Regions from separate parts of the Homo sapiens genome. Here regions 1, 2 and 4 are each linked to region 3. The links come from fine-mapping of genetic effects on gene expression. A gene starts in region 3. Each other region holds a variant in brackets. All regions are shown on one strand. Distances are between the middles of the regions.

Region 1 (4,164 bases), 65 kb after region 3:
GGTTGGAAGTCCAGTGAGGCTAAAAGCCGGTACCAAAGTCTCTAGGCATCAGGGCTGCAGCCCAAGAGTCTCACGACCAGTGGGCAACTGGATGGCCAGACAGGTGTCTCAGTGGTGGCCTCTCCGTCTCAGGGCTTCATCCCACTTCTCAGTGGGCCTGACGTCCCTGGGCACCCTGGATGTCTACCTGCATTAGCCAGAGCCATCACATGGCCTGTGACTTGCCTTTTTTTGCCAGTTGATTGTGCCACACACAGTGTCATTTCTGTGTCATTTGGCACAGCTGGAGGTGCAAGGAGGAGGGCAGCCTCATGTCCAGTCCCAGTTTCACGTAACTTTATTCTTCTGAATAAAGACAATTTGCTAACCTTAAAAAAAAAAAAAAAAAAAAAGTTTTTCTTATATGTTGGACCCAAATTCTTAGGCTTTAACCTGAATAACAATGACAGCAAGATCAATAAATAGTACACATTTATTAAACACTCACTGTGTCCCAGACAATATTCCAAGCACTTTTTATGGATAGACTCATTTTAACTTCTAAAGAACTTTGTGGGATAAATACAGTTATTTTATAGATGAAGAAACTGAAGCACAGAGAAGTTAAGTGCTTTGTCCAGGGTAACAGCTCAGATATGGCAGAGTCAGGATTTGAAACTAGACCCTCACATACCTTAACTGCTGTGCTGTGGCAGTGTTTTTCATACTGTAGGTTGGGACCAGCCTTCTCTTATGCCCTCACCCCCTGCCAAAAAAAAAAAAAAAAAAAAAAAATATATATATATATATATATATATATATATATATATATAATATATATATATATAAAATATATATATATATAAAATATATGTATTAGTATATATGCATATATAGTATATATTATATATTAGTATATATACTAATATATAATATACATATTAGTGTGTGTATATATATATATACTAGAATAAAAAAATCAAAGTATCTCAGAGTAGTAAGGACAAACATTTCAGAAAAATGTTTTCATTATATATACATGTATGTATGTGTATGCTGATTCAACAAATATATTTCTTATAGGTTATAGCAAAATAGTTTGAAAGCTTTTACTGTGTTTTATCAGGAAGACCTTAGGTGAACGTATATTCACAGATAAAAGAGGTTATTTATTCATTCAATAAATATTACATTCTCATAAGTCCTAATATTATGTATTTTTATTCTTCAAAAAAGTTAGTATTTGTGATTTATGAAATAAGACATGTTCTTGCACTTTTAGCAGATCTGTCCCGATGTTGGGCTTCTTTAATCCTTAGTGTGGGTGCTTTGCACTCACTCACTGCTGGGGACAGCAAGACCCCTGTTAGTCTCAGCTGTGTTTCTTAAATTGGCCCACTGTACCTTCCAGTTAGCTATTCTGGGGTCCATGTCATGTTGGCTCCATTTTCCTTTTCTTTCTCCCACACAGATACCTATAACGGCTATAACATAGGCCTGGTGGCTGTTGGTGGCTTATCCCTATCTGCTTGTATTTAAGGGGTACTGTTTCACTGAGTTTTGCTGACAGATGTTGTCATGAGATTTGAGGTTTTCTGTGTTGTTGCTCTATTTTTATGTGGGAATTTGCTACTATCATCATCCCTAGACCAGCTTTTCCTAGTAATACAACAGGGATGTTCTGACTGATTAGAGTTTGCCTGTTTGAAGAATTGGTTGGCTAGTGATTTTTTTTTGAGGGGAGTCTGTACCAGTTAATAGCCTGACTGGCGTGTGGATAAAAAGGAAGCAGTTTCAAGTCAAATAAAACACTTAAAATGAAACCACACTGCAACTCTCTTTCTTTTACTTAAGCTTAATCAAATTAATGATGATGTAATCCCATGAAGGAAAAGTCTTCTGAAGGATCAAGTTGATAACATTTTGTGATCAA[A/G]GAATTTGAGAAAACCTCTATCCCAGTGTCTATCATTATATATTTTAGGATGTTAATTACCTGTGTGGCTTTAGGCAAGTCATTTTTCCTCCTTGAGCCCCATTCTTAATCCTGTCCAAATTATTTGTCTCCTCTTGCAGTTGGACTATTTTAATATAGCTGTCCTTCAAGTGAGTTTTGTTCAAAGGAGCCTTCACTTTAGCTCTTACTGTGTACCCACTTTGCATAGTCTTGTTTTAAATGTAATCCTTGGATTTTTGGTGTTGCTAACTAATTACTGTTTTTATGTGAGGATTTAGAGTGATCCAGAATCTATACTTGCACTACCTCCTTCATCTTCCACAAATGTTTGAAGTGGTAGAATTTTTAAAAACTTTGAAGGTACAGCTGACAGAATTTGCTGATGGTTTGGAAGTGAGTGGTATGAGAGGGAAAAAAAGGAATAAAGCATGACTGCATTTTTTGTTTGTTTGTTTGTTTGTTTTTGAGACGGAGTCTCACTCTCGCCAGGCTGGAGTGCAGTGGCGTGATCTTGGCTCACGGCAACCTCCGCCTCCTGGGTTCAAGCGATTCCCCTGCCTCAGCCTCCCAAGTAGCTGGGACTACAGGCGCTCGCCACCACGCCTGGCTAATTTTTTTTTTTGTATTTTAGTAGAAACGGGGTTTCACCGTGTTGGCCAGGATGGTCTCCATCTCCTGACCTCATGATCTACTCACCTTGGCCTCCCAAAGTGCTGAGGTTACAGGCATATATATAAGCATATAAAGTGTGTTATAGCATACAAACAGGTATATATATAAACATGCAGTCCACACAGCTGATAGGAATGAGGCAGTAGTGAAGGAGAAGTTGATGTAGGAGAGGGGACAGTTGTTACAGGAAAGAAGTCTGGAGGCAGAAGGGATGAATTCCAGTGCTCACATAGAAGATTGCTTAGATGGGAGCAAGGACAATTTATCTAGAGTCACAGGAAAGAATGCAGTACACGGGTAGAGATGCAGGTGAGTTGAAAGATGTGAGAGATGATGGAAATAATTTTCTGATTGCTTCTATATTCTCAAGGAAGCAGGAAGCAAAGTCCTCAGCAAAGAGAATAGAAGAGGTGTTAAATATTTGAGAAAGGAGATGTACTGTAGAAAAAAAAAAAACTCAGTTTCTCCTTCTGAACTCTCACAAAACAGAACCCTTCCATGACTCTAGTTGTGTGGGGTTTTTTCCCTGTCAGCTACCAATTCTGCAGATGATTGTTCAGTGAACACCAACTGGGTGTCCTCTAAGTCAGTTCAGTTCTCACACTGTTTACCTGGAGATAGCATCAGATCCCACAGATTGAGGACTCTGTCCCACAAGACTGCCTCCACTTCAGATGCCAGTCTCAAGTACAAGTTGTGGCCTGTGCTTCTGACTGACCTTCTATAAATTGGAGTTCCCACAGTCCCCTCCTTGGGTTCAATAAATTTGCTAGAGCAGCTCTCAGAACTCAGGGAAATGCTTTACATATATTTACCCATTTATTATAAAGGATATTACAAAGGATACAGATTGAACAGGCAGATGGAAGAGATGCATGGGCAAGGTATGGGAGAGGGGCACAGAGCTTCCATGCACTCTCCAGGTCATGCCACCCTCCAAGAACCTCTACAGATTTAGCTATTCAGAAGCCCCCCTCCCCATTCTGTCCTTTTGGGTTTTTTGTGGAGACTTCATTATATAGGCATGATTGATCATTGGCTATTGGTGATCAGCTCAACCTTCAGCCCCCTCATCCCGGGAGGTTGGTGGGTAGGGCTGAAAGTCCCAAACGTGTAATTCTGCCTTGGTCTTTCTGGTGATTAGCCCTCATCCTAAAGCTCTTTAGAGGCCACAGCCACAAGTCATCTCATTAGCCTTCAAAAGAATCCAGAGATTCCATGAATTTTAGGCGCTGTATGCTAAGAAACTGGCTAAAGGCCAGTTGCAATGTCTCAGGCCTGTAATCCCAGCACTTTGGGAGGCTGAGGCAGGAGGATCGTTTCAGGCCATGAGATCAAAACCAGCCTGGTCAACATAGTGAGACCCCCTTACAAAAAATTTAAAAATTGGCCAGGCGTAATAGCTCTTGTCTGTAGTCTCAGCTACTCAGAAGGCTGAGGATCACTGAGCCCTGGAGTTGAAGGCAGCAGTGAGCCATGATCGTGCCACTGACTCCGGCTTGGGTGACAAAGTGAGACCTTGTCTCAGAAGAAAAAGGAAAAAAAAAAAACTGGGCAAA
Region 2 (4,164 bases), 39 kb before region 3:
AAGAAAGAACCAAGTGCTTATTTGGGACCTACTATGCTATGTTTTTCCATGCACGCTATTTTCAGTAAAGCAGTTAGCAAACTTGCAAGATCATAACAACAAATATATGCTTCTATAACTCTAAAATTGTGCTTTAAGAAGTTCCTCTTTACCAGCTCATGTATGCATTAGTTTTCTAAGAGTTACTAGTAACTTTTTCCCTGGAGAATATCCACAGCCAGTTTATTTAACCAAAGGAGGATGCTTACTAACATGAAGTTATCAAATGTGAGCCTAAGTTGGGCCAGTTCATGTTAATATACTCCAGAACAAAAACCATCCTACTGTCCTCTGACAATTTTACCTGAAAATTCATTTTCCACATTACCAAGGAGCCAGGGTAGGAGAATATAGAAAGACCACCCAAGAATCCTTACTTCTTTCAGCAAAATCAATTCAAAGTAGGTAACTAAACACATGCCCTAACAATGAATAGCAGATTGTGCTCAGAAGAATGATCTACAACATCTTACTGTGAAGGAACTACTGAAATATTCCAATAAGACTTCTCTCCAAAATGATTTTATTGAATTTGCATTTTAAAAAATATTTTAAGCCTAAATTTTAAAAGGTTTGATATTGGTACATGAATAGACAAACAGACATGGACTAGACCAAGAATTAGGTTCAAACATATACAGGAATTTAATATACGATAAATCTAGTATTCCAAAGGAACCAACAAATGGTGTTCAGACAGCAGGATAGGCATCAGGAAAAACACAGTTGGGCACCCTACCTTACTCCTAACACCAGGAGTAACTGAAGGAGCACCAAATATTTATTTATTTTAATTATAGTTTTAAGTTCTAGGGTACGTGTGCACAACATGCAGGTTTATTACATAGGTATACATGTGCCATGTTGGTGAGGAGCACCAAATATTTAAAAGAAAAAAATTGGCCAGGGGCGGTGGCTCACACCTGTAATCCCAGCACTTTGGGAGGCCAAGGTGGGCAGATCACCTGAGGTCGGGAGTTCGAGACCAGCCTGAGCAACATGGAGAAACCCCATCTCTACTAAAAATACAAAATTAGCCAGGCATGGTGGCACATGCCTGTAATCCCAGCTACTTGGGAGGCTGAGGCAGGAGAATAGCTTTAATCTGGGAGGCACAGGTTGCGGTGAGCTGAGATATTGCACTCCAGCCTGGGCAACAAGAGCAAAACTTCAACTCAAAAAAATTAATAAATAAATAAAAATAAAGAAAGAAAAGAAAAAAATGAAAATAGTATAATTAGCAGAAGAAAACACCGTAGAATCCTCGGACTCTTAGGATGGGGAATGCCTATAATATAAAAACCCTGAAGTTATAAAAGAGAAAATCACCTACATACAAACCAAATCTTTCTACATGCCTAAAACATAGCACAAACACAGCTAAATAATCATAGCTGAATGAACTGGGAAAACAAAACTTGACTCATATCCAGACAGAGTTAATTTTCCTACACATAAAGAGTACCTATATAAACCCAACAAAAAAACCACCACTAACCCAAAATAAAAATGTGACAGGTAATGAACAGGTAGTTCACAGAGAATACAAATGGCTCTTCGGCACATAAGATGCTCAGACTGACTTTTACTTATTTATTTTTTGAGAGACAGGGTCTCACGATGTTGCCCAGGTTAGGCTCAAACTCCTGGGCTCAAATGATAGTACCAGGACTACAGGTGTGCCCCACCGCACCTGGCTCCTCAACCACCTGTATTAACAGGAAATGCAAAATAAAACTTTCAAATCTATTTTACCTATTAGAATGGCAAAAATTTGAAAAACTTCAAACATCATCATGTTGGTGAGAATGTGAGGAGACTGGCA[C/T]TCTCATTTTTTGCTGATAGCATATATATACTGATGGCTTCTATGGAAAGCAATCTGGCAGCGTCTATCAAATGTACAAGTGCATATATCCTTTGACAAAGCAATTCCACTCTAGGAATGTGTTCTATATGGTTGTGCTTCCTGGGGCTGGGAACTGGGAGCTAAGGGACAGGGGCAGAAGATAATCTTCTTTTCCCTCCTTCCCCGTTAAACATGTTGAATTTTATATACTGTAATATATTATTTTTCACAAAAGATAATTTTTAAGCGATATGTCTGGGAATTTTTTTTTTTCTTTTCTGAGACAGGGTCTCACTCTGTCATCCAGGCTGGAATGCCATGGTATGATCTCAGCTGACTGCAGCCTCGACCTCCTGGGTTCAAGCAATCCTCCCACCTCAGCCTCCTGAGTAGCTGGGACTACAGGCACGTGCCATCATGCTAATTTTTGTATATACAGGGTCTCACTATGTTGCCCAGGCTAATGTCAAACTCCTAGGCTCAAGCAATCCACCCACCTCAGGCTCCAAAGTGCTGGGATTACAGGCGTGAGCCACCGCGCCTGGCCCTGGGAATTCTTACAAAAGAAAAAATATCTACTCTCCCCTTCTATTAAAGTCAAAACAGAGAAGGAAATTCAACCTATAATGAAAGTAGAGAAGGGCCTCAACCCTGAGCAACAAACACAAAGGCTATTTCTGAGACAGGAATTTGCTGAACAAAATCGAGGGAAGATGACAAGAATCAAGACTCACTTCTCGGCTGGGCGCAGTGGCTCACACCTGTAATCCCAGCACTTTGGGAGGCCGAGGCGGACAGATCACGAGGTCAGGAGATTGAGACCATACTGGCTAACACAGTGAAACCCAGTCTCTACTAAAAATACAAAAAATTAGCCGGGCGTGGTGGCAGGTGCCTGTAGTCCCAGCTACTTGGGAAGCTGAGGCAGGAGAATGGCGTGAACCCAGGAAGCGGAGCTTGCAGTGAGCCGAGATCACGCCACTGCACTCCAGCCTGGGTGACAGAGCAAGACTCTGTCTCAAAAAAAAAAAAAAAGACTCATTTCTCTAGATCTTGAGCCGTATTCAAATTTATCTCAGCTTAGTGAGAGGTTAAAGCAAGGAATATCCTTCCCTGTGGGCCCTGCTCCTTACTGAAGGAAGGTAACGGATGAGTCAAGGACACCAATGGAGAAAAGCACTAACACCATTATCTGATGAACATTACGTGAAGAAGGGTAAGAAGTGAAGTGGAATTGCTGAAGAAGTCAGTGAAAGCGGACATTCATTTGGGGAAATGGAATATAGGAAATCCATAAAAGTGATTAAAAAGATGTTAGAGGCTGAGGCGGGGGGACCACAGGGTCAGGAGATCGAGACCATCCTGGCTAACACGGTGAAACCCCATCTCTACTAAAAATACAAAAAATTAGCCAGGCGTGGTGGCAGGCACCTGTAGTCCCAACTACTCGGGAGACTGAGGCAGGAGAATGGCATGAACCTGGGAGACGGAGCTTGCAGTGAGCCGAGATCACGCCACTGCACTCCAGCCTGGGTGACAGAGTGAGACTCCATCTCAAAAAAAAAAGTTAGATACGAGAGATAAAGATCCAACAGACACACAACTGCTAATTCTGAACAGAACAAAACAAATGGCACAGGAAAAGAAAATTTAAGATATAACACCGGAAAACTTTCCTGAAATTGAGTAACTGAATCTATAGCTTGAAAGGGTTTAGCATATGCCAAGAAAAATCAGTAGAGTCCAACCAGCACAAGACACATCTAGCAAGGCTGGTGATTCTACCAACACAGAGAAAGAAGTGGGTGACCCATAATGCGGAAAAAGGCAGACCATCTGCAGTCTTCTCCAGAACACTGGAGTCTGAAGACAAAAGAATGCTGCCTACTGAGCCAGAAGGGAGAGAAAGTGACCCAACACATCTTTACCAAGTTAGAATGTCACGCATTATTTAAAGGCTGCAAAAGCCATGAAAGACATGAAAGAACACAAGCATTTACAACATGAAAGAACACAAGCATTCTCATACTCAAGAATCCTTAAGAAAAATGTAGTCCTAATCCAGCCCACTGAAAGTTAAATGTACTTAATGTGCTCATTAATGGGAACTTCATAGCTTCAAATCAGTCTGGTCCCATCTACCAACATCTCTCGCCCGGCTTTCCTGCAATAGTCAGCACCTTTCCCTCCTCCCAGTCTTGTCCCCTGGAGTCTGCTCTCAGCATAGCAGAGTGACCACATCAACACCCAAGTCAGAGCCCTCCAGTGCGCACTGGTCT
Region 3 (4,164 bases):
TTAAGGCCAAATGTGAGGTAAGTGGAATGAAAGAATTAGAAGTCCTTGCCTTGTTCACAGGACTGATTAAATAAATGAGCCAGGTTTTCCATTCAAACAGTTAAAACTTGAACAAAATAAACTCAAATTAAGTAGAAAGATAAAAAACAGAAATTAATGTCATAGAAAAATAAAAAATCAATAGAATTAATCAATAAATCCTGGTTAATAAAAGCTGGTTCTTTGAAAGGATTAATAAAATAATCATTAAGCAAGTCTGATCAAAAAAAAAGAGAAAAGGTACCAAAAAAAGTACTGTATCAGAAAGAGAACATACAGATACATACAGATATGTAAGAGTCTGTTTTCTTACACCAGAATACTATATACAACATTATGCTAGCATATATTAAATTTCAATAATGTTAATGATTTTCTAGGAAAACAGAAAATATTAAATTTACTTTGAAGAAACAGAAAAACTGAGAAAAATAAATGATCATGAAAAAAATGAAAAGGTAATTAAATACTGATATTAACTGCCTAAACAACACCAGCAGCAGCCCAGGCAGTCTGCAGTCAAGTTCTGCCAAACTTGAGGGAACAGATAATTCTTCTATTCCAGAGCATAGAAAATGATGGAAAGTTTCCCAATTTAATCAGAGAGGACAGCCTGATCCTTGTTATGAACACAGATAAAAATGGGGTAAACTATATGCCAAACTCAGATACCAAAACCCTAAATAAGATGCTAGCTTATTGATGTGAACAATCCAAAAGTGCATTTTAAATTAGCCCAGGGTTTTAGAGAAAGAAAATCTAGCAATGTGACCACCACTTATGTTAACAATTTTAAGACGAAAATCTACATGATCATATCAATGCATGCTACACAAAAGCATTTGGGCAAAAAACCCAACACCCACCCTTGACTTTTTAAACTCTTAGTAATTAGGCATAAACAGAAATGTACTTAATGTGATAGAATACACTCGGTGAAGATACAGAGGGAATGCTCCCTAAAACCAAGCCCAAGACAAAGATTCCTATTTAACCTCAATAGTCAACACTGCAGCGAGAGTAATCTATGGAAGACAAGGAAAAAAGTAAAAACATGAGAGACATCTGTTGTTTAACAGACAATAAGATCACCTACTTGGAAGAGGCAAACGAATCAAGCGAAAAACTATTAAAACTGAGACAGGCTTTAGTATGGAGGCTCAGCTTCAGCTGTAGTTTGGGCTACCAAATTCAACTCGCTTGCTTGGAGAGTTAATCCTGCAAAGCTAATTTCTGTTGAGGTATTAGGATTGACAAGCCTGTGCTCCTCCCTCCTCCCCCATCTTCAACACTGAAATAACACGGTGTTTGGAACTGGATAACAGAATCTTCCAAAAACAAAAATTGTCCTGAAGGGCTGACTTGTGCCCTTACTCAAAAAACACTTTATCTGCTGCCTGCAGCTCCTACAGTTGCTGGTGGATAAGCCTGCCAACCAGCTCGGCGTAATTCTTCCTGCAGAGGGCAAGGAAGAGCACTTTCACAGGAAAATTTTTTTCCGAACTGTATGCCGCTTATTACATAAACTTACGTGCTGGCAAATGGAGCTCCAGCAAAATAAGATATTCAGAGTCAAACTTCCTTAGGAAAAAAAAAAAAAAAAAGCAAGCACATAACACTAATTTCCTTGCATGGGCACTGGGGAAGGAGGTCGTTACTTCCGCACGCCCGCAGGTCCGCACCACCGGGAAACCCACGGGCACCGCGCGCTGCCCCCGGGCCTTCCAGGTGCACTGCGCCGCGGCGCCCCAGCTGACCCGGGATGCGCAGCCCTAGCCCTTCCCCTGTCACCCCGGCCAGGAAGGGGCGGGAGCGCGGCGGACGCCGAGGGCGAAGGGCTTCTCGGTCCTCTGCACCACGCAGCACCCCCAAGGCACAACAGGGAGGGTGCGGGAGGCTCCCGAGACCCAGGAGCCGGGGCCGGGCGTGCCCGCGCACCTGTCCCACTGCGGCGAGGGCTGGGGTCGCCTCCAGGGCCGCAGCTGTCGGGAGCCACCTGGCTCTCAGTCCCGGGTCCCTGCGACAACCCTCGGGCCCGGAGGGGAGGAGGCGGCCACCTGCCGCTGCCACCTGCGGCACCGGTCCCACCGCTCCGGGCCGGGCAGGACAGGCCAGGACGTCCCTCCTGGGCTGGGGACAGGACACGCGACGAGGGGACCGGGGCCCCCGCGGCGAAGACGCAGCACGCCTTCCCAGAAAGGCAGTCCCGTGCCCCCACGACGGACTGCCGGACCCCCGCGCTCGCCCGCCCATCCCTTCAGACCACGCGGCTGAGGCGCAAAGAGCCGGCCGGCGGGCGGGCTGGCGGCGCGGCTAGTACTCACCGGCCCCGCTGGCTCAGCGCCGCCGCAACCCCCAGCGGCCACGGCTCCGGGCGCTCACTGATGCTCAGGAGAGGGACCCGCGCTCCGCCGGCGCCTCCAGCCATCGCCGCCAGGGGGCGAGCGCGAGCCGCGCGGGGCTCGCTGGGAGATGTAGTACCCGGACCGCCGCCTGCGCCGTCCTCCTTCAGCCGGCGGCCGGGGGCCCCCTCTCTCCCAGCTCTCAGTGTCTCATCTCCCTATCTGCTCATCCTCTGGTCGCACATAATCGATGTTTGGGCGTCCCAAGCCAGATGTGGACCCCATTTCCGCACTCTACACTGGAGGTTTTCTAAGGGTGGTGCCCGGACCAGCAGCTTCAGCCTCATCTGGGAACTTGAGAAAATGCAGATTCTCCGTCCCACCCAGCCTATTCGGTTTTTCCTGCACTAAAACCATGAAGGTGGGGCCCAGCAGTCCACATTCTCGCAAGCCCGTCAAGTGATTCTGAGGCGCCCTCCAGTTTGAGAGCTATGCTCACGGCCTCACCTCCGCCCCGCAAGGAGCCCGGTCTTGCCTGTGGCGCTAGCCGCACACGGACACCTCATCCTGCGGGGCCCGCCCCCCCGCTGCACCCTCACCGCCCAACGCCTCCTCCGGGATGCAGCGGAGGCGCCTGGAAGTCGGCAAGGTCAACATCCCCCTCAGCATCTTCCCTACCCTCACGGCTCCTCCTCCAGGGGTGCCTCATGGCCAGGGGTTAGAAAGAGCCACTGTGTTTCTTGACATGGAAGTGGCCTAAGACCTTAATGAAAACTGCAGGAGTGGAATGACAGAACCTTTGGTCATACTTGAGGGCGTGAAGCTCAAATGAGGAGGAAGGAAAGGATCCAGGGAGAATAACCAACCCTGGCAAGTTGTGGCGCCCAGGTAGAGGGGCGAGCCTAGGCTAGCGGTTCTCGACCAGGGCCGGTGTTGCCCCTCCTCGCCGCCCCGCGTACATTTGGGGAGGTCTGGAGACATTTTTGGTTGTCATGATGCGGGAGTTGCTACTGTTGCCTAAGTGGGTAGACACGAGGGTGCTCCTCAACATCCTACCTGAAGGACAGGACTGCCCCACAAGGAAGAATGATCCGGCCCCAAATAAGAAACCCTGGGCTGGTCAGCAACAACCCCTTTGTTCTGAGAAGAGAGGAGGAAAGAATAAAAGAAGTGGGGTGAAGTTTTGGTTTGGTAGAGGAAACTTGAAGACATTTTCACTGGAAAGGAAGAGAGGAAGAGGAGGGAGATGTCTGTAAGGACGAGCAAACCGGGTGACAGCTGATTTCCTCATATTGAAGTAATGAGTCCTAGTTATAATAAATTCCTAATAAAAACCCAGTTTATCCCTGCAATAAACTTGTCTTTTTTTTTTAAATATACTGCTTGATTCTGTTTGCTAATATTTTATTTACAGGCTTTGCATTGATATGCAAAAATGAGATGGGCAATAATTTTCTTTTTGAATGTCTAATGTTGTTTGGTTTCAGAATCAATGTTATGCTCACATCATAAAAAATTTGGAACCGAGGCAGGAGGAGTGCTTGAGGCCAGAAGTTCGAGACCAGTCTAGGAAACACAGTGAGACCCCCCCATCTCTACAAAAAAAAAAAAAGAAAAAAAAATGGGCATGTTTGCTTTTTCCTTTTACTCTGAACAATTTAAGGAGCATTAAAATTATCTATTCTTTGAGGTTTGATCATTTCCCAGTTAAAAATGTTCCTCCCAGCCTGATGCTTTCTTTGGGGAGGGTAAATCTTTTAAGGCTAGAAAAGTTTCTTCTGTG
Region 4 (4,164 bases), 64 kb before region 3:
GAACTCCTGGTCTCAAGCAATCCTCCTTCTTCTCCTCCTGAGTAGCTGGGATTTCAGGTGCAAGCCACTGCACCCAGCAAAAAATCCAGAAATTTTAACAGTTGCTTTAAAGTGTGGGATTAAGTCACTATTTTCTCCAATTTCTGAATTTACTGAAATGCCGTATCAGAGCATGAGCTCTGGATTGAGACAGACTTGAGTTCCCATCCTGGCTGCACCACTCACCTACCTGCCCACCCATCTCTCTGACCTCTCTAGGCCTCCACATCCTCAGCTATTAAGTGAAGACCAAAAAGGTAGCTACCTCATGGGGCTGCTGGGAGAATCAAATGAGATGATGTTGTACAGTGAGAGCTCAAAATTACTTAGATCATTTAAAAAAATGTTAATGTATTGGGGCCAGGTGTGGGGGCTCACGCCTATAATCCCAGCACTTTGGGAGGCCAAGGCAGGTGGATCGCCTAAGGTCAGGAGTTTGAGGCCAGCCTGGACAACATGCTGAAATGTTGTCTTTACTAAAAATACAAAAATTAGCTGGGTGTGATGGCATGCGCCTGTAGTCTCAGCTACTCGGGAGGCTATGACAGGAGAATCACTTGAACCTGGGAGGCAGAGGTTGCAGTAAGCCGAGATCAAGACACTGCACTCCAGCCTGGGTGACAACAGCAAGGCTCTGTCTAAAAAAAAAATAACATATTGGAAAAATAAAATTGGAATGAGGAATGATACTTCACAGGTGGTGGTTTATTTCAAATTCCAGGTTTTCAAATGAAAGTTTAGTATTGCTTATTTTGCACCCCCTCTCCTGCCTTGGGGGCTCCTCTGTTTAGACAGGCTTCCATGTTAACTCACTTGGTAAAGGAAAGGTTAAAGGAAGTGAAACACGGCTACTCTAAAACAGAACCACAGAGACACAGAGTCCATGGAGCTGAGCTGTAAAGGAGCAGAAGCAGCCACACCAGTGAGTTCTGCAGCTAGAGCAGCACCTTAGCATTCTATCGAGAAGGGGTGGAAGCCACATTTCCCAAGAAAACTTAGTGTGGACCTTCTGCACCGCTGAGCTAAACATTTTATACCTATAGGAAATTAGAGTCAGTGGGACAAGGAAATAAAAAGCAAAAACTTAATTTCTAGAAAATAGAGTGGGTAAGAGAGATTTTAAGGTATCTTCAGCCCTGTGATGGGATGTGGGGGAAAAACAATCTCAAGTAACCATATAATAAATAACTTCCCAGAAAAGCCACCAACTTTATCATATTATTGCTTGAAACTCTGCCATCTGGGCTTCACAAACATCTCATTTCAGACCCTAACACAATGTATGTATTGCCCAGATGTTGAGCATTGCGACATTATCAGACCCTCTGCCAGACGACAGGGCACACTACAGTGCTGATCTCCTCCAAGGGGAGATGACTCGAGAACGTTCCAGGGGCTAAGCACTAGTCGAGTGGGCGGTTCTCTCCACAGGACCTTAGACATCCCACACTTGGCAAAAGGAATGCACAGAAGCAGCCCTATTCACCCTGGATGGGAAAATAATCTCCACGCTGCTACTAATTAGTACCCACAGGGCTTCTTTTCTAAAGAACTTCATATATTAACTTGAAGTTGGCATTAATCATCCTTTCCTTGCAAGATAAAACAAGTGAGAAAAGATCATTTTCTTTCAACACGTCAAAAGGTGGGTTTCAAATCCTTTTTCAGCCCCCCAAAATCATGCATGTGGCATTAACTTATCCAGTCCATGCACCACGGGAGAATGTATTCACACTGCCTTAGTCACACCAAGATCCACTGGGTCTGTAAGACATTGTACCTAAAGCAGAAGCACCTCTTCCCCAGCTATCCTAAGATTTTCCATCTCTGTCTTAAATAATAACCAACGATGTACTTACTGCAAAAACTCTGCTTCTCCTGCTTCTCGGGAGCTGCCGACCTCAATCAGCAAGTCAGCCACTCTATTCTGGGTTTGGTGCTGGCCTGGGAGGAAAACCACACTCGGAGGGGGCCGGGCAGAGAGCGCTTGAGCAATGCTTCACTCAGGAAGCAGGCGGGCTCTGCTCTCCCCAAGTTCTGATGGCCTCTCCCCGTCTCTCTCCTGCCTCTCACAATCTCTCTCTCTCTTCTCTTTCTTACATGCATACATGCACAAAGTGCAAAATCATATTTCCATCCTACTTGGTCCTCAATGCTTAATTTGTACCTCTCCAAAATGTAAGGGTTTCAAGATGTAGGCTGGCTAGCTGCTGACTGCTCCCTGAGATATCAAACAGATTTAAAAACAAAAACAAAAACTCAGTCTGCTCTTCACAAATGGATTTACCCTGAAGCTTCAGCCACGCCCCA[C/T]CACCTTGCCATGACCCTGTGAACACTGTGAGTTCTAGGTGGGAAGGGGAAGTCGGGCTACAACCAGGAAGCATATCACAGCAGGGGCTTCTGGTGAGCCAACTAAAGGGATCTCAAAGGTAGGCATCGGAAACTCCTAGGCTCCAATAATTTGTTGCAATTTTTTTTCGTTCTAAATAAATCTTTTCATACTTAATTTTGAATTCAGGGAGCTCCAAAATGATATGGGCATCCTCACAAAGCCTGGGGTCCACGTTCCCTGCTACTACGGATGGCCTAGAGTAAGCCCCAGTGACAATGGGATCTACTGCAACAGGGACCAAATACACTGCCCAGAAAAAAACACCGAAGAAATGTTGTGAAGGTAAACAAGCAACATGTGTTATATCCACAGGCACCAAGAACTCTATCAGCGGGCCTGGGCTAAGCTTAGTCATTGCCACAAGCTGCATTTTAATTGCTATTTTACTGGATAATAGGTGTGGAAGGCAGCCAGTCTGCTCTTGCATGGCAGAGAGCTCTTATATAGCAGGTGGCATGGGTTTGCAGAGCCTCTGTGACATAGAATCCCCCATGTTCACTATAATTCTAACCTCCATACTCAGACTCTGTCATTCTAATGGACAGAGTGCAGTAAGGAGTTCAGAGCCGGCCTGGCCTGGCACGGCAGCCCCATGCCCCACCTGGCCAAGGCTGCTGCCTCTCATGGCCATCCAGCTTTGCCTTGAAGGAGACAACAGGCACAATGCACTGAACCTGCTCTTACTGAGGAACACCCACTCTCCTGGGGGGCAAGGGGCATACAGGGTCCTAACTCATCTGGGTGACTCCCCATGTGGCACCATGGCACAGACACAGGAGGTGGTAGTGGTTGGGACTCTGCAAATGACAGACACCTAACTCAATTTTGCTTAAGCAAAATGGTGAGTTTGTTGGCTTTACTGATTTAGGAAAGTCTAGGATGAATTCAGGCTGGCTTTAAGCCAGCTCTAGACCATGAGGTCCAATGATGTCATCAGGAATGGTTTTGAATCACCTCGTAGCTTCACTCTCCTAAGCTGGTATCATTCAAACACAGGTGCTCTGAGGATAGGAAGGCCTTGCCCAGCAGCACTGCAAGACTAGAGGTCTTTAGCATTTGAGATTCCAGATTAGAGAGTCTCTCCCAGAAAAGAGCCTGAGGTGATACACTGTCCAACCCATTGGCCGTGGAGAGGGACCTGGATGATTGGCAGCTCCACTAGTTATGGGAAAAGCAGTTTCCAAAAGGAGAAAAAAGGCTAGGCAGAAAAAAAGTACAAGCTAGTCACTCAATAGTGTCTCAGATTATTAAGCCTTTCATGTGATCATGTCTTACTTCCCTCATTAGACTGTAAATCTATTAATAGAAAGATACACACAAAATGTTAACAGTGCTTATCTCTCAGACTGAGTGTCATTTACTTTTTAAATTCACATTGTAGCTTCTAAATTTTCTAAAATAAGTATGTATTCAACTGTATAATAAAATAATATACCTAAATAAGTTATCACGTTAAAAAAAATCCTACTTACAATAGCATCTATAAATAAACCTGGTAAGAAAGTTACAGTCGCCCCCCAAATTCATGCTTTACTGAATGACAAAAAAGAAGACTGGATGAAAAGCATACCATGCTCTCCCAACGGATATTCATTCTCTGCAAACAATTTTATAAATGTGTTGTAATTCCAATAAAAATTCTAATCAGATTAGAAATATGAAGAAAATTATTTATAAAATTGTCCTGAAATTCATCTGGTAGAATAATTGATTATTCTCTACAGAAGCTATCA

Direction of the effects. Alleles are on the strand shown, and positions count from the first base shown. SD is a standard deviation of normalised expression in the study named. Not every link is listed here.
With allele G in place of A in region 1, the expression in esophagus muscle of the gene that starts at base 2,429 in region 3 is lower (small effect, 0.33 SD a copy in GTEx).

The links. PIP is the estimated chance that this variant, and not a neighbour inherited with it, causes the effect.
Region 1: its variant is fine-mapped to the expression of SPECC1 in esophagus muscle (GTEx, PIP above 0.99).
Region 2: its variant is fine-mapped to the expression of SPECC1 in whole blood (TOPMed, PIP above 0.99).
Region 4: its variant is fine-mapped to the expression of SPECC1 in whole blood (TOPMed, PIP 0.93).

Annotation. Positions count from the first base shown.
Region 1 is chr17:19,942,886-19,947,049 of GRCh38, reverse strand. The region is part of intron 5 of AKAP10 (A-kinase anchoring protein 10); the gene reads left to right. Among named protein-coding and RNA genes, the nearest start is that of AKAP10, 33 kb to the left of the region's middle. The variant A/G (reference allele first, on the strand shown) is at 1,913.
Region 2 is chr17:20,046,893-20,051,056 of GRCh38, reverse strand. The region is part of intron 1 of SPECC1 (sperm antigen with calponin homology and coiled-coil domains 1); the gene reads right to left. Among named protein-coding and RNA genes, the nearest start is that of SPECC1, 40 kb to the right of the region's middle. The variant C/T (reference allele first, on the strand shown) is at 1,865.
Region 3 is chr17:20,007,624-20,011,787 of GRCh38, reverse strand. SPECC1 (sperm antigen with calponin homology and coiled-coil domains 1) reads right to left here and starts at 2,429. Exons shown (of 15, transcript NM_001243439.2): 1 at 2,364-2,429. SPECC1-DT (SPECC1 divergent transcript) reads left to right here and starts at 2,528. Exons shown (of 1, transcript NR_186461.1): 1 at 2,528-3,733. RefSeq lists silencers at 1,758-1,937, 1,958-2,627 and an enhancer at 3,060-3,627.
Region 4 is chr17:20,071,436-20,075,599 of GRCh38, reverse strand. The region is part of intron 1 of SPECC1 (sperm antigen with calponin homology and coiled-coil domains 1); the gene reads right to left. Among named protein-coding and RNA genes, the nearest start is that of SPECC1, 64 kb to the right of the region's middle. RefSeq lists an enhancer at 1,786-2,005. The variant C/T (reference allele first, on the strand shown) is at 2,350.